Homo sapiens: one gene and its partners. The protein of the gene in region 3 purifies or fractionates together with the protein of the main gene of each other region. This does not show direct contact. Each region holds a gene or a part of one and is shown on either strand. Other genes may lie near its edges.

Evidence for each region.
Region 1: the proteins of ASNS (region 3) and KYNU fractionate together in Homo sapiens (co-fractionation; one large-scale study listed by BioGRID). This does not show direct contact.
Region 2: the proteins of ASNS (region 3) and FAIM fractionate together in Homo sapiens (co-fractionation; one large-scale study listed by BioGRID). This does not show direct contact.
Region 4: the proteins of ASNS (region 3) and TTC27 fractionate together in Homo sapiens (co-fractionation; one large-scale study listed by BioGRID). This does not show direct contact.
Region 5: the proteins of ASNS (region 3) and AACS fractionate together in Homo sapiens (co-fractionation; one large-scale study listed by BioGRID). This does not show direct contact.
Region 6: the proteins of ASNS (region 3) and NBDY purify together in Homo sapiens (co-immunoprecipitation; one study listed by IntAct). This does not show direct contact.
Region 7: the proteins of ASNS (region 3) and PLPBP fractionate together in Homo sapiens (co-fractionation; one large-scale study listed by BioGRID). This does not show direct contact.

The regions. Positions count from the first base shown.
Region 1 is NC_000002.12:143,051,443-143,056,082, forward strand, and holds the end of KYNU (kynureninase), read left to right. Parts: 3' UTR 1-4,391; downstream 4,392-4,640. UniProt on the Homo sapiens protein: Catalyzes the cleavage of L-kynurenine (L-Kyn) and L-3-hydroxykynurenine (L-3OHKyn) into anthranilic acid (AA) and 3-hydroxyanthranilic acid (3-OHAA), respectively. Has a preference for the L-3-hydroxy form. Also has cysteine-conjugate-beta-lyase activity.
Region 2 is NC_000003.12:138,614,454-138,619,093, forward strand, and holds part of FAIM (fas apoptotic inhibitory molecule 1), read left to right. Parts: intron 1-4,640. UniProt on the Homo sapiens protein: Plays a role as an inducible effector molecule that mediates Fas resistance produced by surface Ig engagement in B cells.
Region 3 is NC_000007.14:97,858,870-97,863,509, reverse strand, and holds part of ASNS (asparagine synthetase [glutamine-hydrolyzing]), read left to right. Parts: intron 1-4,111; coding exon 4,112-4,297; intron 4,298-4,554; coding exon 4,555-4,640.
Region 4 is NC_000002.12:32,669,247-32,673,886, reverse strand, and holds part of TTC27 (tetratricopeptide repeat protein 27), read right to left. Parts: intron 1,616-4,640; coding exon 1,503-1,615; intron 1-1,502.
Region 5 is NC_000012.12:125,140,849-125,144,679, forward strand, and holds the end of AACS (acetoacetyl-CoA synthetase), read left to right. Parts: exon of another isoform or gene 1-80; intron 81-1,243; coding exon 1,244-1,381; 3' UTR 1,382-2,468; downstream 2,469-3,831.
Region 6 is NC_000023.11:56,814,714-56,819,972, reverse strand, and holds the end of NBDY (negative regulator of P-body association), read right to left. Parts: intron 2,654-5,259; 3' UTR 794-2,653; downstream 1-793. UniProt on the Homo sapiens protein: Promotes dispersal of P-body components and is likely to play a role in the mRNA decapping process.
Region 7 is NC_000008.11:37,765,645-37,770,284, forward strand, and holds part of PLPBP (pyridoxal phosphate homeostasis protein), read left to right. Parts: intron 1-66; coding exon 67-102; intron 103-635; coding exon 636-711; intron 712-837; coding exon of another isoform or gene 838-890; exon of another isoform or gene 891-2,134; intron 2,135-4,640. UniProt on the Homo sapiens protein: Pyridoxal 5'-phosphate (PLP)-binding protein, which may be involved in intracellular homeostatic regulation of pyridoxal 5'-phosphate (PLP), the active form of vitamin B6.

The DNA of each region.
Region 1 (4,640 bases), on a different chromosome or scaffold from region 3:
TTTAAAAATATAAATTATATTTTTATTTCATAGTGGTATTTTCAATTTTGTCTGGGATAATAAGATGTTTTATTTAACTTGTTTGATTTTGTAGTTTTATCTTTGTGGGAAGGACCTGGTAAGAGGTAATTGAATCATGGGGGCAGGACTTTCCCATGATGTTCTCATGATAATGAATAAGTTTCATGAGATCTGTTGGTTTCATAATGTGGAGTTTCCCTGCAAAGGCTCTTGTCCTGTCTGTGCCATTTGAGACATGCCTTTCAACTTCTGCCCTGATTGTGAGGCCTCCCCCGCCATGTGGAATTGGGTCTTACTTTTGTAAATTGCCCAGTCTCAGGTATGTCTTTATCAGCAGCCTGAAAACTGACTAATATAGTAAGTTGGCACCAGTAGAGAGGGGCACTGCTGAAAAGGTACCCGAATATGTGGAAGCAACTTTAAACTGGGTAACAGGCAGAGGTTGGAATGGTTTGGAGGGCTCATAAGAAGACAGGAAAGTGTGGGAAATTTGGAACTCCCTAGAGACTTGTTGAATGGCTTTAACCAAAATGCTGATAATAATATGAACAATGAAGTCCAGGCTGAGGTGGTCTCAGACAAAGATAAGGAACTTCTTGGGAACTGGAGCAAAGGTGACTCTTGTTATGTTTTAGACATAAAGCAAAGAGACTGGAGGCATTTTGCCCCTGCCCTAGAGATTTGTGGGACATTAAACTTGAGACAGATTATTTAGGGTATCTGGAGGAAGAAATTTTTATGCAGCAAAGCATTCAAGAGGTGACTTGGTTGCTATTAAAGGCATTCAGTTTTAAAAGGGAAATACAGCATAAAAGTTCAGAAAATTTTCAGCCTGACAATGCAGTAGAAAAGGAAAACCAATTTTCTGAGGAGAAATTTAAGCTGGCTGCAGACATTTACATAAGTAACAAGAAGCTGAATGTTAATCACTAAGACAATGAGGAAAATGTCTCCAGGGCATGTCAGAGACCTTTGTGGCAGCCCCTCCCATCACAGACCAGGAGCTTTAGAAGGAAAAATGGCTTCGTGGGCTGGTCACAGGGTCCCTCTGCTGTGTGCAGTCTAGGGACTTGGTGCCCTGTGTCCCAGCAGCTCCATCCATGACTAAAAGGGGCCAAGGTACAGCTTGGGCTGTGGCTTCAGAGGGTGGAAGCCCCAAGTCTTGGCAGCTTCCATATGGTGTTGAGCCTGGGTTCACAGAAGTCAAGAACTGAGGTTTGGGAACTTACACCAAGATTTCAGAGGATGTATGGAAATGCCTGGATGCCCAGGCAGAAGTTTGCTGCAGGGGCAAGGCCCTCATGGAGAACCTCTGCTAGGGCAGTGAAGAAGGGAAAAGTATGGTGGGAGCCCCCATACAGAGTCCCTACTGAGGCACCACCTAGTGGAGCTTTGAGAAGAGGGCCACTGTCCTCCAGAACTCAGGATGGTAAATCCACCACGCACCTGGAAAAGCTGCAGACAATTCCAGCCTGTTAAAGCAGCCAGGAGGGGGCTATACCCTGCAAAGCCACAGGGGCGGACCTGCTCAAGGCTGTGGGAGACCACCTCTTGCATCAGTGTGACCTGGATGTGAGACATGGAGTCAAAGGAGATCATTTTGGAGCTTTAAGATTTGACTGCCCCACTGGATTTCAGACTTTCATGGGGCCTGTAGCCCCTTCGTTTTGGCCAATGCCTCCCATTTGGAGTGGCTGTATTTACCCAATGCCTGTATCCCCATTGTATCTAGGAAGTAACTAACTTGCTTTTGATTTTACAGGCCCATAGGTGGAAGGGCGATGTTTCTTTCTGGAGGCTCCAGGGAGAACTCTGTTTTCTTACCTTTTCTGGATTCTAGAGGCTTCCCACAATCCTTGGCTTAAGGTCCATCTTTAAGCTTTGTCTCTGATGAGACTTTGGACTGCGGACTTTTGAGTTAATGCTGAAATGAGTTAAGACTTTGGGTGACTGTTGCGAAGACATGATTGGTTTTGAAATGTGAGAACATTTAAGAGGGGCCAGGGGCAGAATGATATGGTTTGACTTTGTCCGCAGTCAAATCTCATCTTGAATTTCTATGTGTTTGGAGAGGTACCCGGTGGGAGGTAATTGAATCATGAGGGCAGGTCTTTTCTGTGCTGTTCTCATGATGGTGAGTAAGTCTCATGAGATCTGATGGTTTTATAAAGGGGAGTTTCCCTGCCCAAGTTCTTCTCTTGTCTGCCATCATGTGCGATGTGCCTTTCACCTCTGCCATGATTATGAGGCCTCCCTGGCCATGTGGAACTGTGAGTCCATTAAACCTCTTTCTTTTGTAAATTGCCCAATCTTGGGAATGTCTTTATCAGCAGTGGGAAAACGGATTAATATACTAATTTATAGCTAGTAGGTAAAAAGCCAGGGACTTGCCATTAGCGTTGGAAGTGGGGTTGTGGGGGCAGTCTTGTGGAACTGAGCCCTTAACCTGTGGGGTTGAATGATATCTCCAGGTATATCATGTCAGAATTGAATTCAATTAGAGGATACCTAGCTTGCGTTCAATGCAGAATTGCTTGCTGGTGAGGAGAAATCCCTATACACATTTTGGTGACCAGAGGTAAAGCATTTTATGTTGATTCTTGAGTGAGAGAGTAGAAATAACACTGGTTTTTTCCCTATGTCCTTACAACCACCAATTGGATACATTGTTTCAGTATTTTGAAATTTTTCATTTAATTTTTATAAATTTTCTTTTTAAATTTTAGATTCTACAATATCTCCAATTCTTCAGTTTATTCCCTCTTACTATGTATAAGTATTTCCCCAAGTTTCACTTTATCTTTCTATTACTTTTTTTACATAATAGAGCTATAAAGGCAATTCACAATTCTCTCTTTTCTCATATATAATATAGAGCATATTATAAATACTCTACTTTGGAAAATTATTCTTTATAGGAAATTACAGATAATATTTGATGAAGAAAATCGAATATAATCATTTTTCAATACTTAGGATAACAGATTCAGGCAAAGATAAAACATTAAAGGAAAAGTTAGTGAAAACTATTAATATATAGTGGAGGCATCACGTTGTTATGAACTTCATTGATCAATACTGATACCACTAAAAATGGAACAACATGTAATTATGTGCTCAATGTGATGAATATGAAGTAGACTGCACCACTCTGCAGTACAGTCAGGAAATAAGAAACCAAGTCCAATCAAAATAGCCCTAAAGCTACCTTCCAGTTTATAAAAAGTATGAAGAATAGAGGGGCAATTAAATGATACCATAAAGAGTCAAATACAGGGCATGCAACATAGCTGCTGATTGGATTTATTCAACATGTCAGTGGCATGAATACAATAGGAGGCAGGTAGGGAGAAGGCACTACCCTGAATTATGAGACTGAAGAGATATAATAAACAAATGCAATGTGTGGACTTGGTTGGGATCTTCATTCAAAGACCAACTATAAAAAGACATTGTTGTGAGAATTGAGGAAATTTGAATGAGAAATGTATTTTTATCTAATTTGTTAGCTGTGATAATAGTATTGTGGGAGTAAGAAGCTATTCATATTTCTATATATATATACCAAGTACATAGGAGTGAAATAATACAAAATCTGGAATTTGCCTTAAAATTCCTCTGCAAAATTATAAAAAAGAACGATGACAAACTAAAAAGGTGTAGTATTCTTCTATGGCTGCTATAACAAATGACCAAAAAACATAGTGACTGAAAATAACCCACATTTATTATCTTACAGTTCCATAGGTTAGAAGTTCAACATGGGTCTCATGAGATCAAAAGCAAGGCCTTGGCAGGGTGACGTTTCTTTCTGGAGGTTCCAGGGGGAACTCTGTTTTCTTACTTTTTTTAGATTCTAGAGGCTTCCCACAATCCTTGGCTTAAGGTCCATCTTTAAAGACAGCAACGTTTCATCTCTCTACCTATTCTTTCATCCTTACATCTTTCTCTAACTATTCCTTTTCTTCTGTCTTCCACTTTTAAGAGCCTTTTTGAGTCTATTGAGGCCAACTGGACAATCAAGGATTATCTCCCTATGTTAAGGTCAATTGATTAGTGACCTAATTCCATCTACAATCACAATTCCTCTTTGCCATATAATGTAAAATATTCATACCTCTAAGGATTAGGACATGGACATCTTTGAGGGTCATTAGTCATCTTACCACAGGAAGGAAGGAAGGAAGGAAGGAAGGAAGGAAGGAAGGAAGGAAGGAAGGAAAGGGAGGAGAGGAGAGGAGAGGTAGGAGGGAAGAAGAAAAAAATAGTATGAAAAAATCTTGATAAATTTGAAAACTGGGTGAATAATATGTGGAATTCTCTCTATTTTTGTTAATGTTGGAAAATTTAATAAAAACAATGAACAGTGATGACTTCGGTGAGAATTTATGTCACCTGCCTCAAAATTTATGACTTCAATAACACCTTGTATGTAATATTTTTCACCATATATTCTGATGTTGGAAACAATCCCTTCTGCCTTTGTATTAGTCCATTCTCACACTGCTATGAAAAATACCTGAGACTGGGTAATTTATAAACAAAAGAGATTTAATTGACTCACAGTTCTGCATGGCTGGGGAGGCCTCAGGAAACTTACAATTATGGCAGAAGGTGAA
Region 2 (4,640 bases), on a different chromosome or scaffold from region 3:
AAAGAAGGATTTTCTTCAAATTTCTGACAGCGTCTAGTACAGTATCTCTTGATAGCAGGTTCAAATGTTGAATGGAAAAACTGAAGCCTGGACATTTATCATAAGAAAACTTTTGTTGTGAAGGTACATCTCCCCTTGAGAAAACAAATAGAGCATAGCTGCTGCAAATCATACAAAACCATAGAAAAATTTAAAAGACATGTACGACCAGGTGCGGTGACTCATGCCTGTAATCTCAGCACCTTGGGAGGCCAAGTCAGGTGGATTACTTGAGCCCACAAATTCAAGACCAGCCTAGGTAACATGGTGAAACCTCATATCTACCATAAATACAAAAATGAGCCGGGTGTGGTGGTGTGTACCTGTAGTCCCAGCTACTTTGGAGGCTAAGGTGGGAGGATCCTTTGGGCCCAGGAGGTTGAGGCTGCAGTGAGCATTGAATATACCATTGCACTCCAGCCTGGGCAGCAGAACAAGACCCTGTCTCAAAACAAAAACAAAAACATGTACAGATGCTTCTTGACTTGTGATGGGGTTATATCCCAATAAACCCATTGCAAGTTGAAAATATTATAAGTTGAAAATGGATTTAGTACACCTAACCTATCAAACATCATGTCTTAGCCTTGCCTACCTTAAGTGTCCTCAGAATACTTACCTTAGCCCACATTTGGGCAAAATCATCTAACACAAAGCCTATGTTACAATGAAGTCTTGGCTGTCTCCTGTAATTTTTTGTACTGTAGTGAAAGTGAATGGTTGTATGGGTACTCAAAGTATGGTTCCTACCAAACACGTATCTCTTTTGCACCATCTTAAAGTCGGAAAATCATTAAGTCAAACCATTATAAGCCGGGGACCATCTGTATTTGACTTTGGAGTGCTTTCAGAACATTTGGTGGGCATTTAACTATTTGTTGAGTTAATGGATTACATTTGCTCATTCTGATATTACTTTGTATAGACCATCCAGAGAATCACCAGTTACGAAGAAGTAAGTTGACTTTTGTGTGAGGATATTCTCAAAATGAAAAATCAGCTGATGGGCCAAAGTATCTTAAAGTCTGTTTTAAGTAAACATTGATCTCTGTGCTTTAGTGCCTTTTAGAATAATTATTCATGTTTACTTCCTTTCAGACCTCTAACCTAAATCTCTATTTTATTTCATGTTTCCCTAAAGACTCACTAGTGGGCATATTTTTACGTGCATTTGATGAGTTGACTAGTGGTTTTTAATGATTTTCCCTGATATGAATGGCCAAAAAACAGATGTCAGTCTGTTAACCTGTTGCATTTGTGGCTATTAAGAGTGTTTTCTATGTGTGCTCTCCTGCTTTTGAGCCAGAAGAGCAATTTCAATTAAATTTTAAAGTGGTGAAATTGGAATGGAATGTGTAAACTGACAGAGGTCATAAGACTAGTGAAACTGCTGGGATAGGTGATAGAGAAGCCCAAAAGCAGGAGGCAGAGTTGATTTTGGACATTTTTCTTAAACATTAGATGGGATTTGTTGATGGGAATTATTGTTTGTGGTAAGATCATTTGAAAAGTTTTCTTTGCTCTGTGTGCATTATTGGCACCCTCTACAGCTTTGTTAGAAAGTTGGATAGGTAATAAGAACCCAGGACTGGCAGTGGAGATGGCACTTGGAGGGATATGTGTTACTGATTTCCCCGTAATGAAGGAGAGAGGCTAGACCAGGTGATTTTATTGTTTTTTGTTTTCCAGTGCTGAAAATTGTATGACTCTCTCATATTTTGGTTAAGGCTGTTGTTATAAGATACTGGTCACTTTAATCCTTGCATAGAAAGCAGTTTTTAAAGTTAATCTCTGCCTTTTAAAATGGTACAAAATTTGAAGTATTTCAGCCTTTTATAAGCTGAATATACTTTTAATGTTCCAAAGAATAATTTCGTTTGTTTTGTTGTTGTTGTTTTTTGCTTTTGGAACAGGGTCTTGCTCTGTTGGCCAGGTTAGAGTGCAGTGGCATGGTCATGGCTCACTGCAGTCTCAAACCCCTAGAATCGAGCGATCCTCCCTCCTCCCATGTAGCTGGGACTATAGGCACGTGCCACCACACCCAGCTAATTTTTTTTGGTGTTACTCTGTTGACCAGGCTGGTCTCGAGTTCCTGGCTTCAAATGATTCTCCTGTCTCAGCCTCTCAAAGTGCGGGGATTACAGGGATGAGCCACCATGCACACTCCAAGGAGTAATTATAACAGTATTTTATAATTATTAACCATTTATAAAAAGATTTTTTTAGTGTTTTGCTTAAAATAATGGATAGCATGAACAAGAAAATTGAAATATTACTTTGTATTAAAACAACATTTTATTTAATCAGAGAAAAACTGGCAAAGAGAGTAACAAATTTTATATTGATTTGTTACTTGGTTTAAGAAGAAACATCAATTTTGATATATAGTTATATAAGTAGAATTAGAATGCTTCAAATTTGCCAGATAATTGCTTCAGTACTTACTCTTATCTTTGTTTATAATCCTCTCCTGTCATGTACACTTTTAATTATTGGAGAATTAAAAATTGCTATTTTTTAAGTAGTCCTTAAATAATTGTTGAATGCCTGAATGATTGTTCATAGTTTAGAGAAGAAAAAATGTTTTAATGTGATCATGATTTCTAATCTTTCTTATAATTGGTGGTATTGCCTTTTATACTTCTCCATGAAAAGGTATTATAATTAAGATGTTGTATCTTAGTGTGATTTAGTAGTATTTGGAATTCCTTATAATAGAAAACAGAGCAATTGTTTTAGGTTTGAATACCTACATTACTGAACTTTCTAGAGTCTCTGAAAATTGAAGAGCAAAACTTGAATAGCACCCCTAAATACATTCTGATTTACAAAGGATGCCTTATCAAAGTTTATATTATGCTGTTTGGCTTATTTTTTATATTATATGTATGTATAATATGTATATATTATATATAATATGTATATATAATAAATATAATATGTATATAAATATATATATAGTATTTATATGTACTCCAGACTGGGCAACAGAGTGAGACCCTGTCTCAAAACAGATATGTATATCTATATATATCTCTCTCTATCTACCTATCTACCTATCTGTCTATCTATATCTGTCACCCAGGCTGGAGTACATGTAATTATACTATCTTATACTATCTGTCTATCTATAATAGATCTATATATCATATCTATATATATAATATATATATATATGTTTTGAGACAGGGTCTCACTCTGTCACCCAGGCTGGAGTACATATAATTACATTGTGTATATACGTGTGTGTGTATATATATATGTATGTATATAGTATCTACTATATATAATATATAATATATATTATTATTTTGGACATAGATACTATTTATATATAGTATATATCTATATATTATCTATCTATATTATCTAATTAGATATCTAATTAGATCATATAGATATAGATACTATATATACTATATTATATATAGTATATTTAGTATATATAGTGTATATAGTAACTATATATTATATATAGTATATATATAGATACCTGTTTTGAGACAGGGTCTCACTCTGTCATCCAGGCTGGAGTGCGGTGGCATGATCACTGCAGCCACTCACTGCAGCTTCTAACTCCTAGGCTCAAGCGATCCTCCCACCTTAGCCTCCCCCAGTAGCTGGGACTACAGGTGCATGCCACCATGCCTGGCTGGCTTATTATATTGCTATGTATTCTTTTTGTTTTTATTGTTGTAGGATACCCTCTGGTTTCATAGGGGATAATCCTTAAGAGTAGAAAAGTTCACAAATTTGTGTGGTGCTAATTTTATAAAAGAGAGATTTATTTTAGGTACAAATATTTATCTAGTTTTTATTCTAAAATCCTTGGCTTTTCTGGCCCGTTGGATTGCTTTTATGAGTGCTAATTTCTTCTTTAATATCTTTTTGGCTGGGTATGTGGTGGCTCATGCCTGTAATCCCAGCACTTTGGGAGGCCGAGGCAGGTGGATCACTTGAGACCAGGAGTTCGAGACCAGCCTGACCAACATGGCAAAACCCCATCTCTACTAAAAATACAAAAAATTAGCCGGATGTGGTGGCATGCAGTTGTAGTCCCAGCTACTCAAGAGGCTGAGACATGAGAATTGCCTGAACCCAGGAGGCAGAAGTTGCAGTGAGCCAAGATCATGCCACTGCACTCCAGCTTGGGGGACAGAGTGAGGCTTTGTCTCAAAAACAAACAAAAAACTTTTTAATAATTTGTGACTTCTGGCTGTTTCCAGACAGAAAGGGTTAGCAGTCTCCCATTTTTAACCAGGAGAGAGCATTCTTGAGCATCTGTAGGAAACAGGCACTAATTAAGGAAAGGGCTAAACTAGGATAGATCTTGGAAGCAAAAAATAGTTGAATTTAGGATACTTTGGCAGGAGTGAAACTGTTAATCCCAAATCTTCAAATGTGAGGGTTTCCTATGCATGTGAATTTATGTGCACTTCTGATTTTAGTACAGCTTAATTAACACTGCAGCCCAGTTACTGTTTAGTTCATTGCATAGTACAGTACTGGGCTCTAGTTCTGGGTTGGATCCTGCCAGTTACATGAGCAAGGCACATAACTTTTGTGGATTCATCATTGGCACTAGTAAATTAAATGGGCTT
Region 3 (4,640 bases):
GCTTTGAATTCCATCTCTCCATATCCATCAGCTGCACCCCTGCAGTTGTAGCCCCGGCAATCACCAGTCTTTCTGCCTCTGGATTCCCTATTCTGTATGTTTCATATGAACGGGATTATATATCATACCGGCTTTTGTGACTGGATTCTTTCACTTGGTATAGTGCTTTCAAGATTTGTCTATGCCGTAGCATGTATCAGTACTTACTTCTTATGGCCAAATGATATTCCATTACATGGATACACTGCATTTTGTTTATTCGCTTGTCAGTTGATGGACATTTAGGACATTATTTACCCCTTTTGGCTATTATGAATAATGCTGCTATAAACATTGGTGTACAAGTTTTTGTGTGGACATTTCCCTTGGGTGTATATCTAGGAGTAGAATTGCTGGGACACATGATAACTATGTTCAGTTGAAGAACTGCCAGACTAATTTTTGAAATGGCTGCATCATTTTTTATTCACTCCAGCAGTGTATTAAAATTTCTGTTTCTCCACATCTTCACAAACAGTGTGTGACTTTAATTCTAGCCATTCTAGTGTATGTGAAGTGGTATCTCATTGTGATTTTGATTTGTATTTTCCTGTTGACAGTGATGTCCAGCATCTTATCTTATGCTTATTGGCCATTTGTATATCTTCTTTGGAGAAATATTTGTTCAGATCCTTTGCCATTTTTTTTTCCTGTTAGGGATCATTTTATTTTAAAAACATAATAGACTTTATTTTTTTTTTTGAGCAGTTTTAGAAAAAATTGAGAGGAAAGTGCAGAGAGTTCACATATGCTCCCCCTACAGTGCCCCTGCCCAGTTTTCCCCACTCTTAACATCTTGCATTACTGTGCTACATTTATTAGATTTGATGAACTGATACTTATATATTAACTGAAGTTCATAGTTTACATAAGGGTTCACTCTTTGTGTTTTATAGATTTTTGGATTTGACAAATGTTTAATGCCATGTACCCACCATTACAGTATTATGTAGAACAGTTTCATTGCCCTAAAAATCTCCTGTGCTCCACTTATTCTTTCCTCCCGTCCTCTTCCTCCTAACCCCCCAGTCATTACTGATCTTTTTGCTTTCTCTCTCACTTTGCCTTTCCCAGAATGTCGTATAATAGTTGTAATCATATAGTATGTAGCTTTTTCAGACTGGCTTCTTTCACCTAGCAGTATACATTTATAGTTCTTCTGTGTTTTTTCATGGCTTGATAGCTCATTTATTATTATTATTATTATACTTTAAGTTCTAGGGTACATGTGCATAACGTGCAGGTTTGTTACATATGTATACATGTGCCATGTTGGTGTGCTTGCTGAATAATATTCCATTTGTTTGCATGCAATGCAATTTGTTTATCCATTCTTGAATTACCCATTTCTAATTGAGTTATTTTGTCTTTTTATTACTGAATTGTAATAGTTCCTTATGTATTCTAGATACAAATCCCTTCTGTTCATCAGGGTTGCAGGATACAAGATGAATATACAAAAATCAATGGTATTTGACACACTTTAACTGAATACTACATACTTAAAATGAGCAATCAAAATGAAATTAAGAAAGCAACTTCATTTATAATAGCATCAAAAAGAATAAAATACTTAGAAATAAATTTAAGAAGTGTAAAACTTGTACTCTGAAAACTATAAAATGTTGTTGAAAGAAATGAGAGGAGATCTAAATAAATGGAAAAGTATCCCATGATCATGATTTGAAGGCTTAACATTGTTAAGATGGCAGTCCTCCCTAAACTGATTTACAGATTTAACTTGATCCCTATCAGAATCCCAGATGAGTTCTTTGTGAAATCTACAAGCTGACTCTCAAATTCATATGGAATTGCAAGAGACTAAGAATAGCCAAAACAATCTTTTGAAAATGAAGAACAAAGTAGGAGACCTCATATTAACTGATTTTAAAACTTACTACAAGACAATGGTAATAAGGACAATATAATACTGACAGAAGGATAGATGTATAGACTAGTGGGATAGAATTGAGAGTCAGAAATGAACCCATACATATATGATCAACTTATTTTTGACAAGGGTGCCAAGATTATTCAGTGGAGAAAGAAGTTTGAAAACTGGCACAGGGGCAACCAGATATGTAACCATATGCAAAACTTGGAGTTGAATCTTTACCCAACATCGTATACAAAAATTATGGATACAGAAAAATGGATCAGGCCAGGCGCGATGGCTTATGCCTGTAATCCCAGCACTTTGGGAGGCCGAGGCGGGTGGATCACGAGGTCAGGAGATCGAGACCATCCTGGCTAACACAGTGAAACCCCGTCTCTACTAAAAATTAGCCGGGCGTGGTGGCGGGCGCCTGTAGTCCCAGCTACTCAGGAGGCTGAGGCAGGAGAATGGCGTGAACCCGGGAGACGGAGCTTGCGGTAAGCCGAGATCGCGCAACTGCACTCCAGCCTGAGTGACAGAGCGAGACTCATCTCAAAAAAAAAAAAAAAAAGGATCAAATGAATCAGTTTTGAACTAATCCACTTAAATGTAAGGGCTAAAACTATAAAATCCCGAGAAGCAAACATAGAAGTAAATTGTCATGACCCTGGATTTGGCAAAGCTTTCTTAAATATGAGACCAGCAACAATAATAAAAATCAATGAATTGGACTTCATCAAAATTAAACATTTTTGCACATCAAAGGACACCATCAAGAAAGTGAAAAGACGGCCCACAAGTTGGAAGAAAATACTTGCAAATCATGCATAGCACTTTTTGATGGTAAACTTGAGGAAGACATTTATCTTTTATCCCTTACCTGTGCAGCAGTAACATCCTAATATCTCTCTCCCTGCCTCTTTTTGCCATTCTTTAAATTCTTTCTCACTTAATTTTCAGATTTAATATTGGCTGAAGCAGGGATAATGAGATCAATCAAAGGGGTCCTTAGGACACTAGTCACAGTGTTTGTACTAATACTGGAACTGGCTTATTTTCAGGCATTTCTAGTGTGATCAGATGGCAAAGAACAAGCATATATATATGTCAGTTGCCAGGACTGCTGGGAAAGCCTGGTAAAGAGAACACTGGGGAAAAGCAGCCTCCTGCTCCCCTGGGCCTTCTTTGAGCCTGATGATCACTTGATATGGAACTTACCCTCTGAAATTCCTTAATTGTTCTTTTCTATATCCTTGACACTGTCCTTTTCCAGACCAAATTATCTCATCTGGAATACTGCAACAATTTTCTTTTCTCAGTGCTTTTAGAATAACCTGTCAAAATCTCATCTGATTATAGTATTGCCTGCTTAAAACCTTTTAATTACTCCCCATTCCCTATCCGGGTTGTGTAGCTCACTTGAGCTCTGCTGGCTGGTGAGGGAATCTGGGTCCTTTTTCTGGTATTTGAATTCAGTGCTACACAGGTTACTGGCTGGGTAGACAATCTCAAATTGTAAATCACGAGTATTCCATGTAGATAGTCCATTACGATCTACAATAAAACATTGATGTTTGTATCAAAGATCATGGTGATGAGAGGTTGGGTACTGTACTGTCTGTGAGAATTTATTGAGGAAATTTAAGTTATATGGTTTTATTCACATATAGTGTATAACAACTAGTTAAGGGATAGATGTCTTCTTATCTGACTTTAAAGTAGGTAAAAGTGGATCATTGTACTTGTTAAAGGTCTGGGAACCATGGCTGTGTTCTGAAAATACCTCAGTGATGACAAATAAATGACTCCCAGCCTATCATAACATTAGGACTCCAGTTCATCCCTTTGCTTCATAAGTGTGTCTTTTCCTTTTGTGTATTTGCTTTAGTATAGAAAATAGGTTTTCTTGATTAGAAATCTAAGAAGAAGAAATTGAACACTGGAGATTTTTCTATTTCTTTGAATTACGAAAAGTTAGTGTAATTTGGCAGTATATCCCTGTGCCATTATTGTCTCTCAGGTAAGTAGATGGTAGGGCTTAGGAAAATAGAAAATTTTTTTTCCTATTTTGCTTATTTAATGGGTATGTGTTTGTATTAAAAAGGGAAAATAGGAATGTAGATGATGTTAACTAATCGTGAAAGTTATTGGGAAGGGTTACCTAATTTGAATAAAGGTATCATTGTGAATTTCTAGGTCTTGTTACATTGAAGCACTCCGCGACTCCCTTTTTAAAAGTGGAGCCTTTTCTTCCTGGACACTATGAAGTTTTGGATTTAAAGCCAAATGGCAAAGTTGCATCCGTGGAAATGGTTAAATATCATCACTGTCGGGATGTACCCCTGCACGCCCTCTATGACAATGTGGAGAAACTCTTTCCAGGTAGCAGACACCCACCCACCTATTCCCCATCCTTCTCCAAGGGAAAAAAATTTTAAGTTGTATTCTCCCATCATTTGAATGATTTTAGTTTCAAGACCTACTTCCTATTTTGTTTGGAGGGAACACATTAAGATTTGGCACACTCCACCATTGAGTAAATACCATCATGATAGATGTTGATGATTGTGTATTTCATTTCAATAACTAATCCAGCCCAAGATTTTCTGGAGCTGTTTGATTTACTGCTGTGTTTATAGGTTTTGAGATAGAAACTGTGAAGAACAACCTCAGGATCCTTTTTAATAATGCTGTAAAGAAACGTTTGATGACAGACAGAAGGATT
Region 4 (4,640 bases), on a different chromosome or scaffold from region 3:
AGTAGCTGGGATTACAGGCGCCTGCCACCACACCCAGCTAATTTTTGTATTTTTAGTAGAGACAGGATTTCACCATGTTGGCCAGCCTGGTCTCAAACTCCTGACCTTGGGTGATCCATCCGCTTCGGCTTCCCAAAGTGCTGGCATTACAGGCATAAGACACCGCACCTGGTCAATAAAATGTTAATTACAAAATAAATGAATAACTTTGGAGAAGCCTAGCAAACACCACTTTAATCATGTGATTGAAGTTAACATCACCAGTAGTGGGGCAAACCCAAATCATATTCTACCTGCTAGGATGCAATGAGAATAACAAAACTTCATTTCTCTGACATCCCAGCTAAAAACGCATAAGGTGGCCGGGTGTGGTGGCTCATGCCTGTAATCCCAGCACTCTGGGAGGCCGAGGCGGGCGGATCAGCTGAGGTCAGGAGTTCGAGACCAGCCTGGAAAGCACGGCGAAACCCCATCTCTACTAAAAATACAAAAAAATTAGCCGGGCATGGTGGTGTGCGCCTGTAATCCCAGCTACTCAGGAGGCTGAGGCAAGAGAATCGCTTGAGCCCGTGGGGCGGAGGTTGCAATGAGCCAAGATTGTGCCATTGCACTCCAGCCTAGGCAACAATAGCAAAACTCCATCTTAGGAAAAAAAAAAAAATGCATAAGGTGAATCCAACTATTAAAAAAAAAAAATCAGACAAACTCAAATTGAAGGAAAGTCTAAAAGTAATGGACTTGTAAATTTCAAGTGTCAAGATCATGCAAGTCAAGCAAAAATGAGGAACTATTCCAGACTGACAAAGACTAAAGAGACAAGAAAACTAAATGTAATACATATATTCTAGACTGGATCTTTTCTAAAAGAGAGTATCTGAACAACTAGCAAAATTTGAATGGGGTCTGAGAATTAAATGATAGCAAAGTACCAACATTAATTTTCTGATTTTGATAGCTGTATTGTGACTATGTACAAAAATAACATTATTTGTTGGAAATATACACTAAATTATTCAGGAATGATACAGCATCATCTTGGAAACTTATTCTTAGAAGTTATATGTATTGTCCTGCCCTTAAACATTTTTCACAAATTTGAAATTATTTCTAATCAGAAAAAAAAGTTAAAACTATTTCCACCATAGATAAGGTTCCACAGTATTAAAAAATAATCCTATCCTTTGAAATGTAAATATCCTCAAATCTCAAAATAGTCATTCTCATTTGTCTTTAATATTTTATTAATAATCTATTCCTAGCTAAAGCTAACCAAAGAAATTGTGCTTATAAAGGAAACAGAAGAATAGATATATCAACTCATTGGAGATTTGTAATATCTAACCCTTTAATTGGTTCTCCAAGTATTTCCTCTGATCTTCATAAGCACTACAAAATTCCCTATTCATCCAGAACTCTTGGAACCTCCTTGAATAAAGATTCTCCACACATAAGAGAATCAATATGCAAAGTGTTCAAAGCAGCCAAGTCAGTCATTAACTCACCAGATTCCAAGAATAATAGCGATCTCTTCAGCACACAGATCCGGCATCTGGAACTGTTCACAATCTGCTAACTTTATGTCATTCAGAATGGTGTCATCATTGAGCTCAAGATTCTAGTAGAATACAAAAGAAAATACTTAGACCAAAAATTAAATTTTATTCATTCACCAGAATGGCATGTAATAGATTGCTAGAAAGGATAAAGTTAACTTACCTGTTTGACATATGGTCAATAGGCTATTTCTTGTGAAACACATATTTGGAAACAATTTACCTTCCAGAAATGAAAGATGTGCCATCTATACCTCAAGAATGCACTAACAATGACAATAATAGGGAATAACAGCTATCACTGATTGAGCCAAGTATGCAAAAGCCCCTCTGCAGATAATTTTATATACATTTTTCAAATTCTTCCTCACAACAATCATAGACAATAGGCATTTCTATCCTTATTTACTGATGAAAAAACAAAGAATCAGATACTTGAAGCTCATCCAAGATCACACTCAAAGTATGTGATAGCATCAGGATTCAAAACTGGATCTTTCTATTCTGCCTCTAAATTCTAATCAAAAACATCAACTTCCCAACTCTGTGTCTCAGCAATATAGTGTGATCAGTTGAGAAATTTCTCACAAATAGCTTGTTATCAATGATGGAAATGCCAAACTGTGACAAGCTCATTCTAAAATTTATATGGAAATGCAAATGATCGACAATAACCAAAACAATTTTTAAAAGAATAAAATATGAGGAAGTACTTGATTTCAAGAATTACTATAAAGCCCAGACAGTATAGTACTGGCATAAAGACAGACATATAAAGTGAATGGAATAGAATACAGTTCAAAATTTTAGACCCATGCATATATGATGGATTGATTTTCAATATAGCTACCTAGGTGTTTCAACAGGTAAAGCCTTTCAATAAATGAAATTAGAGAACTTTGGGAGGCCAAGGTGGGAGGAAGCTTGAGGCCAGGAGTTTGAGATCAGCCTGAGTAACACAGCAAGACCCTGTCTCTCCAAAAAATAAGTAAGTGAATGAATGATGTCAGAACAACTGGATATCCATTTGGAAAAAAAAATGACCCTTCACGTTTATCTCAATCATACACAAAAATTAAATCAAAATTAATCACAGACCTTAATATACAAGCTAAAGCTAAAAAAACTTCTAGAAGAAAACATTAAAAAAAACTTTGTAACCCTGAGATGGAAAGGCAGTCAGTCCTTAATTAGGATACAAAAAGTATGAATTATAAGAGAAAAACTTCATAAATTAGACTTCATCAAATTAAAAACTTCTGTTCTCTGAAAACATTGTTAAGACAAAAAGTCAAGCTCCAGATCCAAATATACTGACAAAACATATATCTGAAAAGGGACTTGCATCCAGAATATGGAGAACTCTTAGAACTCAATAAGAAGACAAACAACTCAAATTAAAAATGGGCAAGAGAGGCCAGGCATGGTGGCTCACGCCTGTAATACCAGCACTTTAGGAGGCCAAGGTGGGTGGATCACTTGAGGTCAGGAGTTCGAGACCAGCCTGGCAAACATGGCAAAAACCCCGTCTCTACCAAAAATACAAAAATTAGCCAGGCATGGTGGCGTATACCTGTACTCCCAGCTACTCGGGAGGCTGAGGCAGGAGAATCACTTGAACCCGGGAGGTGGAGGTTGCAGTAAGCTGAGATCATGCCACTGCACTCCAGCCTGGGCAATAGAGCGAGATTCCATTTCAAAAATAAAAAAAGAAGAGAAAAAAAAAAACTTACGTTCACACAAAGACTTACATACATATTTTCTAGGCAGGTTTATTAGTAATACCTGCTAGAAATAACTTAAATGTCCACCAACAGTTCATATTGGTATTTCAACATGGATGAATCTTGAAACCATTAAGCCAGACCAAAAGATTATACACTGTATGATTCCATTTATTGGAAATTCTAGAAAAGACAGATCTAATCTATGACAGCAACTGACTGACTGCAAAGAACTATGGCGGCACTCTTTGGAGAAACTTTTTTTCATTGTGGTGGTGGTGACACGCGTCTAATTGTTAAATCTCAACAAAGTGTAATTTAAAATCGGTATATTTTATATAAATTATTCCTCAATAATCTTGGGTTAAATTTTTTTCTAATTCAACAACAACAAAAAAAGAGGACTTTAGGAGCCAAATGAAGCTAGACAGAAGCCAGGTGCGGTGGCTCATGCCTGTAATCCCAGCACTTTGAGAGGCTGAGGCGGGCGGATCACCCGACGTCAGAAGTTCGAGACCAGCCTGGCCAGCATGGTGAAGCCTCGTCTCTACTAAAAATACAACAACTATCCGGGCGTGGTGGCATGTGGCTGTAGTCTCAGCTACTCGGAGGCTAAGGCAGGCTACAGAATGAGACACCATCTCAAAAAAAATAAAAAATAAAAAAATTAAAATACATATTTTCACATTGTAACATTTCTTTCTTTTCTTTTTTTTTTTTTTTTTTGAGAAAGTCTCACTTAGTCACCTAGGCTGGAGTGCAGTAGCATGATCTCGGCTCACTGCAACCTCCACCTCCTGGGTTCAGGCGATTCTCCTGCCTCAGCCTCCCAAGTAGCTGGAATTACAGGCACACACCACCACGCCCGGATAATCTTTTCTATTTTTAGCAGAGATGGGGTTTCGGCATGTTGGCCAGGTTGGTCTCGAACTCCTGACCTCAAGTGATCCTCCCACCTCGGCCTCCCAAAGTGCTGGGACTACAGGCGTGAGCCACCACACCGGGCCATGTTGTAACATTTCCAATCAGGATATGTTTTGTAATCACTATAAATGGTATAGTAGTGTTCCTTTCCTTTTCCTGAAAAATGGTTATTAAACAGATGGTGTATATTACAATCTAATAATGTGTTTAACACAAGGTAATATGATATATAACCAACTTAACAATTCTCTTCCACCCATTAGAATAAAGCTATGTTTCTATCTAATCCATACCTACAGCATACAACTTGTACTCTCCATCTTCAAGTAGTAATTAACAAAGACCATAAGATTATCTGAATGTATTTTATTTCACATACAAAAGATTAAATTCTGGCCGGTGCAGTGGCTCATGCCTATAATCCCAACAGTTTTGGGAG
Region 5 (3,831 bases), on a different chromosome or scaffold from region 3:
CTCTTGCCTCTAGTTCTAGGAAGCTGGGCCACTTCTGAAGTAATGGCAATATCAATAAAGTAATGGTCTTTATCATAGAATAACGTGATAAAATATATAGAGAAGTAAAAAAGTATAAATAAAAGTAAAATCATCATAAAACATAGTAGCTAGGCACTTCTGAAGCTGTGTGTGCACTGATTCATTCACCCAGTGACTCACAGCCTTATAGCCTAGGTGCTGGCACCCCTACTTTCATTCGAGGAAGTGAACTCAGGTTCAGGAATTTACCCAGCATCCCCCAGATGGGGTGGCAGGAGCCACATCTTCCCTGAAAACTTTCTTGCCCAGGGTGTCTGCTGGGATTTAGGAATGGTCTATGCCTGCATTTTTATCCTGGTCAGGCTGACCCTGAACCCTGAGAGATACTCTTTTTTATATTCCCATCTGGAATATGCACTGCCGGGGTCAGTGGGGTGTCTGGAGGGCCCTCTCGAGGCCAGCTTGGATGTGACACGTGTCGTGGGTCCCAACGGGGCCCAGTAGAGTGTGCAGCGTTAGAAAAATGAACATGCTCGGCTGGGCGCGGTGGCTCACGCCTGTGATCCTAGCACTTTGGGAGGCCAAGATGGGTGGATCATGAGGTCAGGAGATCAAGACCATCCTGGCTAACATGAGACCATCCTGGTGAAACCCCATCTCTACTAAAAATACAAAAAATTAGCTGGGCGTGGTGGCAGGTGCCTATGGTCCCAGCTACTCAGGAGGCTGAGGTAGGAGAATGGTGTGAACCTGGGAGGGGGAGCTTGCAGTAAGCGGAGATTGCACCACTGCACTCCAGCCTGGGTGACAGAGTGCGACTCTGTCTCAAAAAAAAAAAAAAGAAAAAAAAAGAAAAAAAGAAAAATGAACATGCTCATGGTGACCTCTGGGCAACTTTGAAATAGCCTCAGTTTCTCAACAGCCGTGCCAGGGGGCGGGGGTGGGGTGTGGAGAGTGTTAGAGTTGAGTTTCAGCACCAGTCCTTGAAAGTGCCTTTCAGAAGAACAGGTTTTATCCCCCAAACAGAGAGACAGTGGTCAGTTCACCGTACTTCGGTGCACGTTTGCAGACCTGGTGGGAAGAGGGGCATCTTAGAGCCGAGACCCATTCACTCTTGGCACTCCAGGTGGAGCTGGGCCTTTGGGGCCTGGATATATCCAGGGCTGCGGATTTTCCCCCCTTCAGGTTTAAATGTTCCTGTTTTTCTACCTTTCCCTCGCAGTATACGCTCAACGGCAAGAAAGTGGAAGTTGCCGTCAAACAGATCATCGCTGGAAAAGCCGTGGAGCAAGGAGGTGCTTTCTCGAACCCCGAGACCCTGGATCTGTACCGGGACATCCCTGAGCTGCAGGGCTTCTGAGTCAGACTGGCTGGCGTGTCACTCAGCCGCACCCGTGTGCACTGTAACTTTTGTGTGCTCAAGAAATTATACAGAAACCTACAGCTGTTGTAAAAGGATGCTCGCACCAAGTGTTCTGTAGGCTTGGGGAGGGATCGTTTCTCTGTTTTGTTAAATCTGGTGGGTACCTGGATCTTCCACACGAGTGGGATTCTGGCCTTCAGAGACCAGGAGGGAGTGTCTGGGCCGCAGGTGTGGCACTGTGGTGAGAGTGTGTGTCTTTGCACACACAGTGCAGCGGGAACGGTGGGGCTGGCTGGTGCTGAAGACAGACACACTCCTGAGCCAAGGTCTTGTCTTCAACCTCCCCGTCCCGTTGTCCCATTTTGCTCTGTGAAGGTGCAAATCCCTTTCTTCCCTTCCCATCTCAGGCTCTCCTGTTTTCCCTCAGGGTCCAGTATGCCTTTGAGCTTTAGCTGTTAGAAAGGAACCCCCGTGACTTGACACAGCTTTCACAGCTGGCTGCTAGGACCGGCGGGCTGGGTGTTCACGTGTGTCTGTGTCATGGATGCAATGCAGGCCCTGGAGGACTGTGCGTCACCCGTCAACCAGAGCGTGCCTCCGGGCCAGCTTCCCTCCAAGGAATGAGTGGATTTCATACAGGATCTCTTTATTGCACAGACTGAATGGCTTTACATGTTTCTAATGTGAATTAGGCATGTGAAGCAGTGGGTGTCCACCCGTGTCCCTCATGGGTGAGCCCTCCAGCTGTGAGCCCAGGCAGTGTGGTCACCGAGTGAGGACCCTCCTCACCAGGAACCGCATCCCTGTGCTGCCTCCACCTGAGAGTTGCTAGGGGGTTCTTGTCGAGATCATGTCATCAGCACCCCTAAGTCAAGTCACGGGTTTCCATAGCCAGGCAGTTGGTATGTACAATTCAGTTCAGCGTATGAACTTGTATCTCTAATCTGATGTCCATTTTTATATTTTTTGAAACTGAGCACAATGAAATCCTTTCTTGAATCATTTTCCTTTTGGATTATAAAAATATGGGGGAAAGTGCTATGATGAATTTTATGCAATAAATGTATACATGTGTGCACATGCACCCATGCTGTGTGTGCAGTGTGCTGGTGTGTTTTCTCTGGAGGGGGGACCGCATCTGCGTGTGTGAGGCTGGTGGTGCTTGTGCGCCCGCCAACAGCTGTGCCCTGGAGTTGTGTGGTTCGAATTGTTGGGGGCACTTCCCAGGGCCCTGGTACTTACCCACATTCCCTTGTGACCAACGAGGAGTGCTGCTCAGTGTGAAGCCAGCACCCTGGGCCCCCTCCACCCTGAGATCCCCCAACACCCAGCGCCAGCCAGGTTTCTGGCTCCTTTCTTGTCATCGCAAGAGCTGCATGTCACTTGGGTTGTGTGTGGCTACATGCCACGGGATCCAGGCTTGGCCCAGCAGCGTTTATGGCTCTCACGTCACAGGAAGTTGGAGGCAGTCCATTCTCCCGGGGCCGGGCAGCAACTCCACAGTGCAGCAGTCCTGGCTCCTGTCTGCTGCACTCTGCTGTCCTCAGGATGTGGCAGTCATCATCTTGGCCCTGCCTGGCTGCCCCACCTCTAGTCTTTCATCCGTGCTGTAGGCAGGAAGAAGGTGGGAGTGAGAAGGGGGCTGGGTAAAGGCAAAAAGCTGCATCTCTGGAGTGTGTCCCTTTTTATCTGCAAAATGATGGCTTTTCTGGAAAGCCGGCAGCATCTGCTGGGCCTCACCAGCCAGCCTGGGGACACGCAGCCGCCTTCGCTGCAAGGGCATCCGGGGGTCTGAGTATTTCAAAGAGGACCTGTTCCCCTTTTTTGTGAGTTTCCAACAGCTGCTGTAACATTTCCACAAAGGCAGTGGCTTAACACAGCCCCAGTTTATTACAGTCCTGGAGGTCAGAAGTCTGCTGTGGGTCTCACTGGGCTGAAATCAGGGTGACAGCAGGGCTGTGTTCCTTCAGGAATCTGCAGGGGAGAATCCATTTCCTTGCCTTCTCCCGCTTCTAGAGGCCACTGTGTTTCTTGTCTGGTGCCCTGTTGTCTTCAGCAATGGCCGGTCACACCTTCCTTCCACTGTAGCTCTCTGACGCTGACACTCCCACCCACCGTGTCCACATGTAAGAACCCCCTGTGATTGCAGCAGGCCCACTTGAATAAGGATAATCTCCCTATTTTGATGTGTGCTGATTAACAACCTTAATTCCATCTGCAGCCCTCACTCCTCCTCACGACGTCGTAGTCCATTTTGTTTTGCTGTAACAGAATACCTGAAGCTGGGTGATTTATAAGTTAATAATTTATTAAGGGGTTCATTTGGTTCATGATTCTGGTGGCTGAAAAGTCCAAGACTGGGCAGCTGCATCTGGTGAGGGCCTCATGCTGCTTCCACTCAGGGCAGAACATGGAGGGGGAGCAGGTGCATGCAGAGATCACGCAGT
Region 6 (5,259 bases), on a different chromosome or scaffold from region 3:
CTTAGAGAGGAACCACAAAATTGTTTGCCCAGTGGCTGCACATTTATCATTACCAGCAACAATGCCGCATGTTCCTGTTTTCCCACATTCTAACATTTATTATTTTGCTATTTAAAATAATAATAATAATAAGTATCCTACTGGGTATAAATTGCTGTCTCTTTGTGATTTTGATTTGCATTTCCCTGATGACTAATAGTGTTGAGCATCTTCTCATGTGTAATTTGTGATTTGTATGTCTTCTTTACAGAAGAATCTATTCAGATCCTTTCGTTATAAAATTGGTTTATTGTTTGTTTTATTATTTAGCGGTAATTACTGTTTATTTTATTTTATTATTTTGTTTTATTTTTTGAGATGGCGTCTTGCCCTGTTGCTTAGGCTGGAGTGTGCATTGGTGCAATTTTGGCTCACTGCAACCTCTGCCTCCCAGGTTCAAGCTATCCTCCCACCTCAGCCTCCTGAGTAGCTAAGATTACAGGCATACACCACCACACCCTGCTAATTTTTTTTGTGTGTGTATTTTTAGTAAAGATGGGGTTTCATCATGTTGGCCAGGCTGGTGTCAAACTCCTGACCTCAAGTGATCCCCCTGCCTCAGCCTCCCAAAGTGCTGGGATTACAGGATGAGCCACCATGCCTGGTCTTATATATTTTAGATACAAGTCATTTATGAGACATATTATTTGCAAAAATAATCTTGCACTGTGGCTGTCTTTCAAATTTCTTGACTGTGTTCACTGAAGCAAATTTTTTTTCAATTTTAATTATGTCCAGTTTATCTTTTTTTTCCTTTATTAACTTGTGCTTTGGTGTAAGAATTAAAAATCTAATACTTAATTCAAGGTCACAAAAATTTATTCTATATTTCCTCCCAAGAGTTTTATAGTGTAACCCTTATATTTGAGTCTTTGGCCTATTTTGAGTTAATTTTTGTATTTTGCATGAGGTAGGGGTGGAAGTTTTTTGTTTTTTTGTTTTTTTTTTGCATGTAGATACCAAGTTGTCCCAGTACCATTTATTGAAAATAGTTATTTCCCCTTTTGTCTTGCCTCCTTCTCAGAAGTTAATTGGCTGCAAATTAACTTTTGTGAGGGCTTATGTCTGGACTTTGGATTCTATTTCATTGATCAATATTTATATCCTATGCCAGTACCACATAGACTTGTTTATTGTAGCTTTGTAATAAGTTTTAAAATTTGGAAATGTGACTCTTCAAACTTTGTATACTTCAAGATTGTTTTGGCTATTCTGGGTCCATTACATTTTCATATGAACTTTAGAATCAGGTTATAAATTTCTTCAAAGTAGGCAACCTTAATTTTGATAAGGGTTGCATTGAATAGTTTGATTATTTTGAAGAGTGTTGTCATCTTTATAATACTGTGCCTTCTGATGCATAAAATGCCTTTCACCAGATGTCCTTTTAAAGAAGTCTGTGTTTACTGTTTGTGATGTTCAGCCTGGCTCAGAAGTTTTAAAACTCTAATGTGTGATTAGTAATATTATACAATCTTTAAAATAACTGTCTATAATTTATTAAGTGTGCATAACATAACTCTAGAATATACATAAATGTCACCATACCTCCATTTGTGATTTTTCAGATTCTTTAATTCTGATGCTAGGGACTAATTTCAGAGGATTGGGTAAAATACTCAGGTTTCACAATCTCTCTAAATATTCATTTTACAATGTAAGCTTTAATTACTTATTTGAACAAATTGTATTATTATTTTATATTTTAATTTATAAGCCAAGTTTATCTGACATTTTCAGATATAATATATGCTTTCAAGTCTGTTTATCTTTTATTATTACAATTCAAAGGTAGAAGCTTTATTTTTTTATATCCCTGGAAATTATTATAGTCTATAAATTTTTTTCTATAACCTTGTAATTCCTGAAACATTTATGAACTATATGAAATATTGAAAGCTGCTATCTAATGTTTTCCCATTTTACTTGTATTTTTTCACCATAATATTTATTACTGTTTTTAATTAGGATATTCTATTTGTTCAATACTAAGCATTTTAGAAGGAAAGTAGAAAATTACAAAAAACAAGCACATCAACCATTTCAGTCAGAAAAAAATAGTTAAGATGTAAAATACTAGGATGAGGATTAGCATAAAAAGATGTAGATTCCATGCAAAAACTGACAGCAAATTAAAGAAAGTGTACTGGAAACAATTCTTTTTTGGATTTAACCTTCCTCTACTTTCCTTATATTTTTCACTAAAATAAATGAATAAATAGACATAAATAAATGAATAAATGTAGGAAGAAGGTCATATTTCAACACTAATTTTAGTAATGCTTTACATAGGAGTTCTTATAAAATATTTACTTAAAATTCACAATTTACTAGATGTAGTCATATAGATCTAACACAGCGCTTAGAGACAAACTTTATTGGGGCCTTAATGGATTTATAGGAATATAAAGTTATACAACAAGAACAGGATGTCACCAAAAGAGTTCACTGGTTGGCTGCTGCAGGACCATCTCACAGGCATTGTTTGCTTTGGTAAGTTCACCATGATCCAGGGCATGGCCTTAAATCTCAGAGGTCTTACAACCCGATCTTGCCCATGTCTTAGAATTCATCGAAATTCAGGAAGTGAAATCGCGCTGATTACATCATAAGACTGAAAGATACAGAAAGAACAAAAGTTTATTGACTTATAATGAGAAATTCCATTATCATACAGGTCAGATATGTCTGTTGAGCAGAAAACACCCCAATTTCCCTATTAAGCAAGTTAAAGAGAATGCAAAATTATTAGATGAGTGCTTAATAAATATTAAATCAAAGGCATACAATGTCAATAACCTGCATCTTTTTGGTATCTAATGTATTTGAATGCAAAATAATTTATCTGTTAGGTGGACCAGATGTTTCTATTATCTTAGGCATATTTCTCCCCCAAAAAGTACAGGGATGTCTACCGCTATTACTCTTGTTTTATTAGGCTTCCAAAACTAATCAATCAGCCTCATTGTTCCCTCATAGCCCCTTGACAAACTCCTATATTCCTTGGAAATTTTATATTTATTTATTTATTTACACAAATAATACATGAATAAATACATGAATACAATCTAACTGTATATAATTCAAACAACATAGACATAATTCTTCTTACTGCTAAACTTTTACCATTCCTCAGTCTTTCTCCTATTTACAGAAGAAAACATAGTTATCAATTCTGTCTAGACCTTTTTATTTCTATTTAAATGTACACATATATAGTATTTATAATAATATAATAATTTAGATTTGGAGTTTATAATATAAATTAGATCATCCTAGCATACACTTCGGCAATTTGTTTTTATTCACTTATAAATGTCTTAATAATTTTTAATATAAAAATAGATCAGTCTCAATATTTCAATGGCTTCAAAATATTGCATCGTGTTACAGTATAATTTTAACTGTTGAAAGATGTTCAAATTCTGTTGAAAGATATTTAATATGCTTGCAACATTTTTACTACAAGCAAGCCAATTTATTGATATGTAGAATTATTTCCATATATTCTACAAATAAAACACAAGTCAAAACTTACAAACATTAAAATTACGATAGAGATAAAATACTTTAGAAACGTACAATTTTATAGACAGTAGATATTTAACCAAATCCTTTCTAAAACTGAGAATTCTGGAGACTTTTTTGATTGTGGCAAATATGATGACCTAATATTAAAGTCAACTATATTTATTATTATTATTGGCCATATATTTTTGTCTCCTATGAATTGCCTGTTCTTTGACTATATTTCTATCAGGCTTTGTTTCTGTATTAACATAAAGAAATGTATTATATATTCTATGAATTAATGGCATCCATTATCTATCTTTTAAATGGAACCACATTGTATATAAATAGTCTTTAAGTTTACTTATGCTGTTTTTCTTCGTATAAAATTTGCATGTTTTATAAAAGAAAATTATATTTAGAAATATAATACGAAGGCATTAAAATGAGGAAAACAACATGAAATGTATAAAAGAGAAGATTAACAATTTCTTCCAGAAAAACAATTCTAAATCTGTGGAGGTTAAAAGATGTTAAAAGTATGGAATAAATGCCTAATAATTTTTTCCATAACCAATCAAAGACACATATACTTACCAACATGTAACTCTTTCTGTTTGTTGTTACAAAAAATGAGTTTGTATTATACACATTACTCCGAACATGTTTTATTTATTTAATAATATCTCATAGTAACCACATAAACTTAAATATTTTAAAAATATCTGCACAAAATTCCAGCAAATGTGTCCACCAAAACATAGTAATTCTCAAAATGAACATAACTGAGACAGTTTCCAATTGTTTTCACAAATATGCAAACATATTCTCAGATGGTATAATAAAAAAGTTAAACAATTTGTGGATTACCATTTCAAATGTTTCAGTAAACAATTCTCCAAACACCAATGTATGAGAGACAAGCTAATCACCTCAACAAGAAATACCTGTTATCATACTTTAAATTTCTATAAATGATAAAGAAAACATAGTATATGTTTGATTTATTGTACCTTAATAGAATTTTAAAAGTGGACAATTTTTTAAGAATTTAGTAATCCAAAATTTCTTAGTCATGATGATCTCCTCATTTTGATGTAGAAAAATAAATTTTAATTTAAATGAATCTCTATAAAGGGTCATTGCGTATGAATCATTTTAATCATCTTTGCAACATAGGTTTAAATCTCTTTACCAGATACTATACTGTATTTTGGTTTAAAATTAAGTGTTTTTAGCATTTTTATTAAAATATTTTCATTATCAAAGAGTAAATAATTTATTGATGGCTTTCAAATTTTCCTGATTTCTCAGAAAGATCTATTTAAGCCAAGTCATATAGTCTATAAAATCATGAATTTATATTAAAATGAGTTGATTTATCACTACTTTAAGAATAAATTTCTCAGTGTAGTAAAAATTGTGTATAAGATATGACAGAAATGTAAAAAGCATTATAGAATGAAGTAAAGGTTAAATATATATTCCAAAAATATATTCTCTATTAGCTATTAATGACACATAAAATATGACATTTCTTACTATCACATTTGATCAAATTAAAAAAAAAAAGAAATACCCCAAAATATGATCAAGAGTCTAAGGTGAACAGCGGAAGAGAAGATGTGGTTCACCAGGTATGGTGGCTCAGGTCTGTAATCCCAGCACTTTGGGAGGCCGAGGTGAGCAGATCACGAGGTCAAGAGATGG
Region 7 (4,640 bases), on a different chromosome or scaffold from region 3:
TTCCTGAAGCCCTTTGGAAGCATCATGATTGCCAGGCTTCTGACTTGTTCTGTTTTGACCTTTTAGGTTCAGGAACTGCTAGAAAAAGCATCAAATCCCAAAGTAAGTAGATAGCTGAATTCTTTAATTTGTATCTAAATCTTGGCTCTTTAGTTGAAAATTAGACCCATCCTGGTGGTTGAGTTGTACAGCAGTTTTAGGGTGGTTGACTTTAGATTGGGCCAGGGATAGAAATGTCAGCTTCCTCCTTGAGCCCCAAGTAATTCTCAGCTAGATTTTTCTCTTTGTTCAGACTGTCGTTTTCTCATTGGTGGCTGTTTGGAAATGGTGGTTTCAGGAGCTTGCTGTAATCTTGGATCTTTTCAAGATTTGAAAGCTTAAATCAGTTCATCCTAGATGGGCAATATCTGAAAGATGGAGGGAATTGATGGGAACAAGGAAGGAAAACAGAACAGAAGCCTTAGATTTTTCTCTATCCTTTTACCTCATTAGGAGGCCGGGTGAAGATTGTGATAGTTTATTACATTTAAGGAACAGAGAGTGGATGTGAAAGGTGACAGGGAGTGCACGAGGCGTTTGAGCCAGCAAGGCCTCTATAAAATCTGAATTACACATGGTTACCTTTTTCCCCTCAGATTCTGTCTTTGTGTCCTGAGATCAAATGGCACTTCATTGGCCACCTACAGAAACAAAATGTCAACAAATTGATGGGTAAGATAAAATTAAATATGAAAACAAAATTGTTCTGTCATTGTATTGCTTCTACTACCCTTTGTGGAAGAGAGAGCAACTTTTAGAATAGCCCCAATTCACCATTTGTTTTTGGAATTTCTTTAGGAAAGTCTGAGTTCTTAATAAAAAGAGAAAACATCATGCCAAGAACAGAATGAATTCACCATTTTCTGGGTTATATATACTTGGAAACCTACCCAACCTCATGTTTATTATTATTTGGTGGTCTTTCAGAAAAATTATAAAGAATTGTAGCCCATAAATTTTTTTAACTAGCAAAAGAGACATTTCTGTTCTTTTTCCTTTAAATAAAAGGCTACAGTAAATAAAATACAATACAGTAAAGTAAGTATAGTAAAGTAAAATTAAGAATTATAGTAAAGTAGGCCAGGCGCGGTGGCTGACACCTATAATCCCAGCACCATGGGAGGCCGAGGCAGGCGGATCACCTGAGGTCAGGAGTTCAAGACCAGCCTGGCCAACATGGTGAAACCCCAACTCTATTAAAAATGCAAAAAAATAGCTGAGCGTGGTGGTGCATGCCTGTCAAGTCCCAGCTACACAGGAGGCTGACGCAGGAGAATCGCATGAACCCGGGAGGCAGAGGTTGCAGTGATCCAAGATCACGCCACTGCACTCCAGACTAGGTAACAGAGCAAGACTTCATCCCAAAAAAAAAAAAAAAAAAAAAAACAAGAATCATAGTAAAATAAAATTAAGAAAGACATGGAGATCTTGAGTAACTGAACTTATTTCCCTTAAGGTATAAAAATTTAAATAACCTGTATATATTTTGTAACAGCTTTATTAGGGAGGTAAGTGACTTACAATACATTGCACATATTTAAAGTATAGAATTCGACGAGTTTTGATGTATGTTTGCACCTGTGAAACCATCACAACAAACAGTGAGCATATCTATCACCCCTAAAAGTTTCCTCCTGTCCCTTGGTAATCCCTCTCTTACCTGTCCCACTTCTCTTCCTCAAGAACCACTTACCTGCTTTTGTCACTGTTAATGTACGTGAGTTTACATTTTTTAGAGTTTTATCCAAAGGGAATCATGAAGTATGTACTCTTTTTTGTCTGACTTCTTTCATTCAGTGTAGTGATTCATCATGTTCATACCTGTATCAAAGGTTCAATTCTTTTTATCATTCAGTAGTATTCCATTGTATAAGTATATTACAATTTGTTTATCCATTCACCTGTTGATGAATGTTGGGTTGCTTCTGATTTTTGACTGTTGCAAATAAGTTGCTATGAATATTTGTGTACGAGCCTTTGTATGGATATATTTCCCTTTTTCTTGGAATAAATATATAGGAATAGAATGGCTGAATCACAAGTTAAGTGTTATGTTTAACTTTTTATAACTGCAATAAAACAAACATAAAATTTACTGTCTTGATCTTTTATTTACTTTTTTTTTTTTTTTTTTTTTTTTGAGATGGAGTCTCGCTCTGTCGCCCAAGCTGGAGTGCAGTGGCGTGATCCCGGCTCACTGCAACCTCCACCGCCCGAGTTCAAGCGATTCTCCTGCCTCAGCCTTCCGAGTAGCTAGGATTACAGGCACATGCCACCACACCTGGCTAATTTTTTACGTTTTTAGTAGAGACAAGGTTTCATCATATTGGCCAGGCTGGTCTCGAACTCCTGACCTTGTGATCCACCCGCCTCAGCCTCCGAAAGTGCTAGGATTGCAGGCATGAGCCACCATGCCCGGCCTATTGATTTTCAAATGTTAAACCAACCCTGCACTCCTAGGATAAATCCTACTTGAAGGCTGGGTCTCTATTAATCTTATTATATGTCATATAAACAAAATAACTGTGTTATGGGATTTATAACTATGTAAAAGCAAAATGCATGACAACAATAACAGAAGGGGATAAACAGAAGTACACTATTGTAAAGTTCTTAAACTGTGTGAAGTAGTGTAACACACCTTGAAGGTGGACTGTTGTAAGTTAAACCCCAAAGCAACCAATAAAATAACACAATAAAGAGTTATAGCTTATAAGTCAACAAAGGAGATATATTGGACTCAAAAAATGTGAAATGGTATCTCCTTACAGTTTTGATTTTCTTTTTTTTTTTTTTTTTTTTTTTTTGAGACGGATTCTCACTCTGTTGCCCGGGCTGGAGTGCAGTGGTGCGATCTCAGCTTTCTGCAACCTCCGCTTCCCAGGTTCAAGCAATTCTTCTGCCTCAGCCTCCCGAGTAGCTGGGACTACAGGCGCCCACCACCACGCCCAGCTAATGTTTTTGTATTTTTAGTAGAGATGCGGTTTCACCATCTTGGCTAGGCTGGTCTCAAACTCCAGACCTCATGATCCGCCTGCCTTGGCCTCCCAAAGTGCTGGGATTACAGGCGTGAGCCACCACGCCCGGCGGTTTTGATTTTCATTAATAACGAATGATGTTGAGCATCTCTTCATGGGCTTATTGGCCATTTTTATGTCTTCTTTGGAAAAATGTCTAGTCAGTCCTCTGCATGTTTTTTAAATTGAGTTGTCTTTTCATTATTGAGTTGTAAATTCCAGCTAGATTAAATAATCTAACTTGAAAATAAAAGCTATAAAAGTATTAGAATAAAATGCAGGAAAATATTTTTATTTTCTTGGGCTTTTCTAAGCAAGACATAAAATCTGGAAACCATAAAAAAAACAACTAGGCCAGGCACAGTGGCTCACACCTGTAAATCTAGCACTTTGGGAGGCCAAGGCAGGTGGATCACTTGAGCCCAAGAGTTTAAGACCAGCCTGGGTAACATGGCAAAACCCTGTCTCCACTAAAAATACAAAAAATTAGCTGGGCGTAGTGGTGTGTGTCTGTGGTCCCAGCTACCTGGGAGGCTGAGGTAGGACGATCACCTGAGTCCAAAAGGTTAAGCCTGCAGTGAGCTGTGATTGTGCCACTGCACTCCAGCCTGGATGACAGAGGAGACCCTATCTAATAATAATAATAATATTAATAATAATAAATTTTAAAAGAACAACTAGCAGATTTGATCACACAAAAATTAAAGCTTTCTGCATGTCAAAGCAAAAGGGAGGCACAGAGTGGAAGAAAAATAATATTTTTGAAGAGGGAAGAGATTCATATCCAGAATACATAAAGAGCTACAAATCTTTTTGTTTATAGGGAAAAAAAATAGGCAAAAACTGGGGCAATTTATAAGGGGTAAAAATACAAAAGGCCAGTAATCAAATGAAAAATATTCATCCTCAGAGAAATACAAAATCACTAATCAGATTTGTAAAAAATCAAAAAGACTGCTAAGATCCAGTGTTTTGAGGGAGTGAGTAAATGAGTACTCCTTCGTCTTACCAGGAGATTCTAAAACCGTAGAGTCTTGGAAAAACATAAAGATTCCACCAAAAAACTATTATAACTGAAAAACAACTTCAGTAACATTGCAGGATACAAAATAAATATACAAAAATCAGTAGCATTTCTATATGCCAACAGTGAATGATCTGGAAAAGAAATCAGGAAAGTAATCCCATTTACAATAGCTACAAATGAAATACCTAAGAATAAACTTCACCAAAGAAGTGAAAGATTTCTGCAATGAAAACTGTAAAACACTGATGCAAGAATTTGAAGAGGACATGAAAAAATGGAAAGATATTCCATGCTCATGAATTGGAAAAATCAGTATTGTCAAAATGTCCTTATTGCCCAAAGCAATCTACAGATCCAGTGCAGTCCCTATCAGAATACTAGTGACATTCTTCACAGAAATAGAAAAACACAGTCCTGAAATTTATATGGAACCACAAAAGACCCATAATAGCCAAAGCCATCCTGAGCAAAAAACAAAGCTGGAGGAATCACATTACCTGACTTCAAATTATACTGTAGAGCTATAGTAACCAAAACTAGCATAAAAACAGACACAT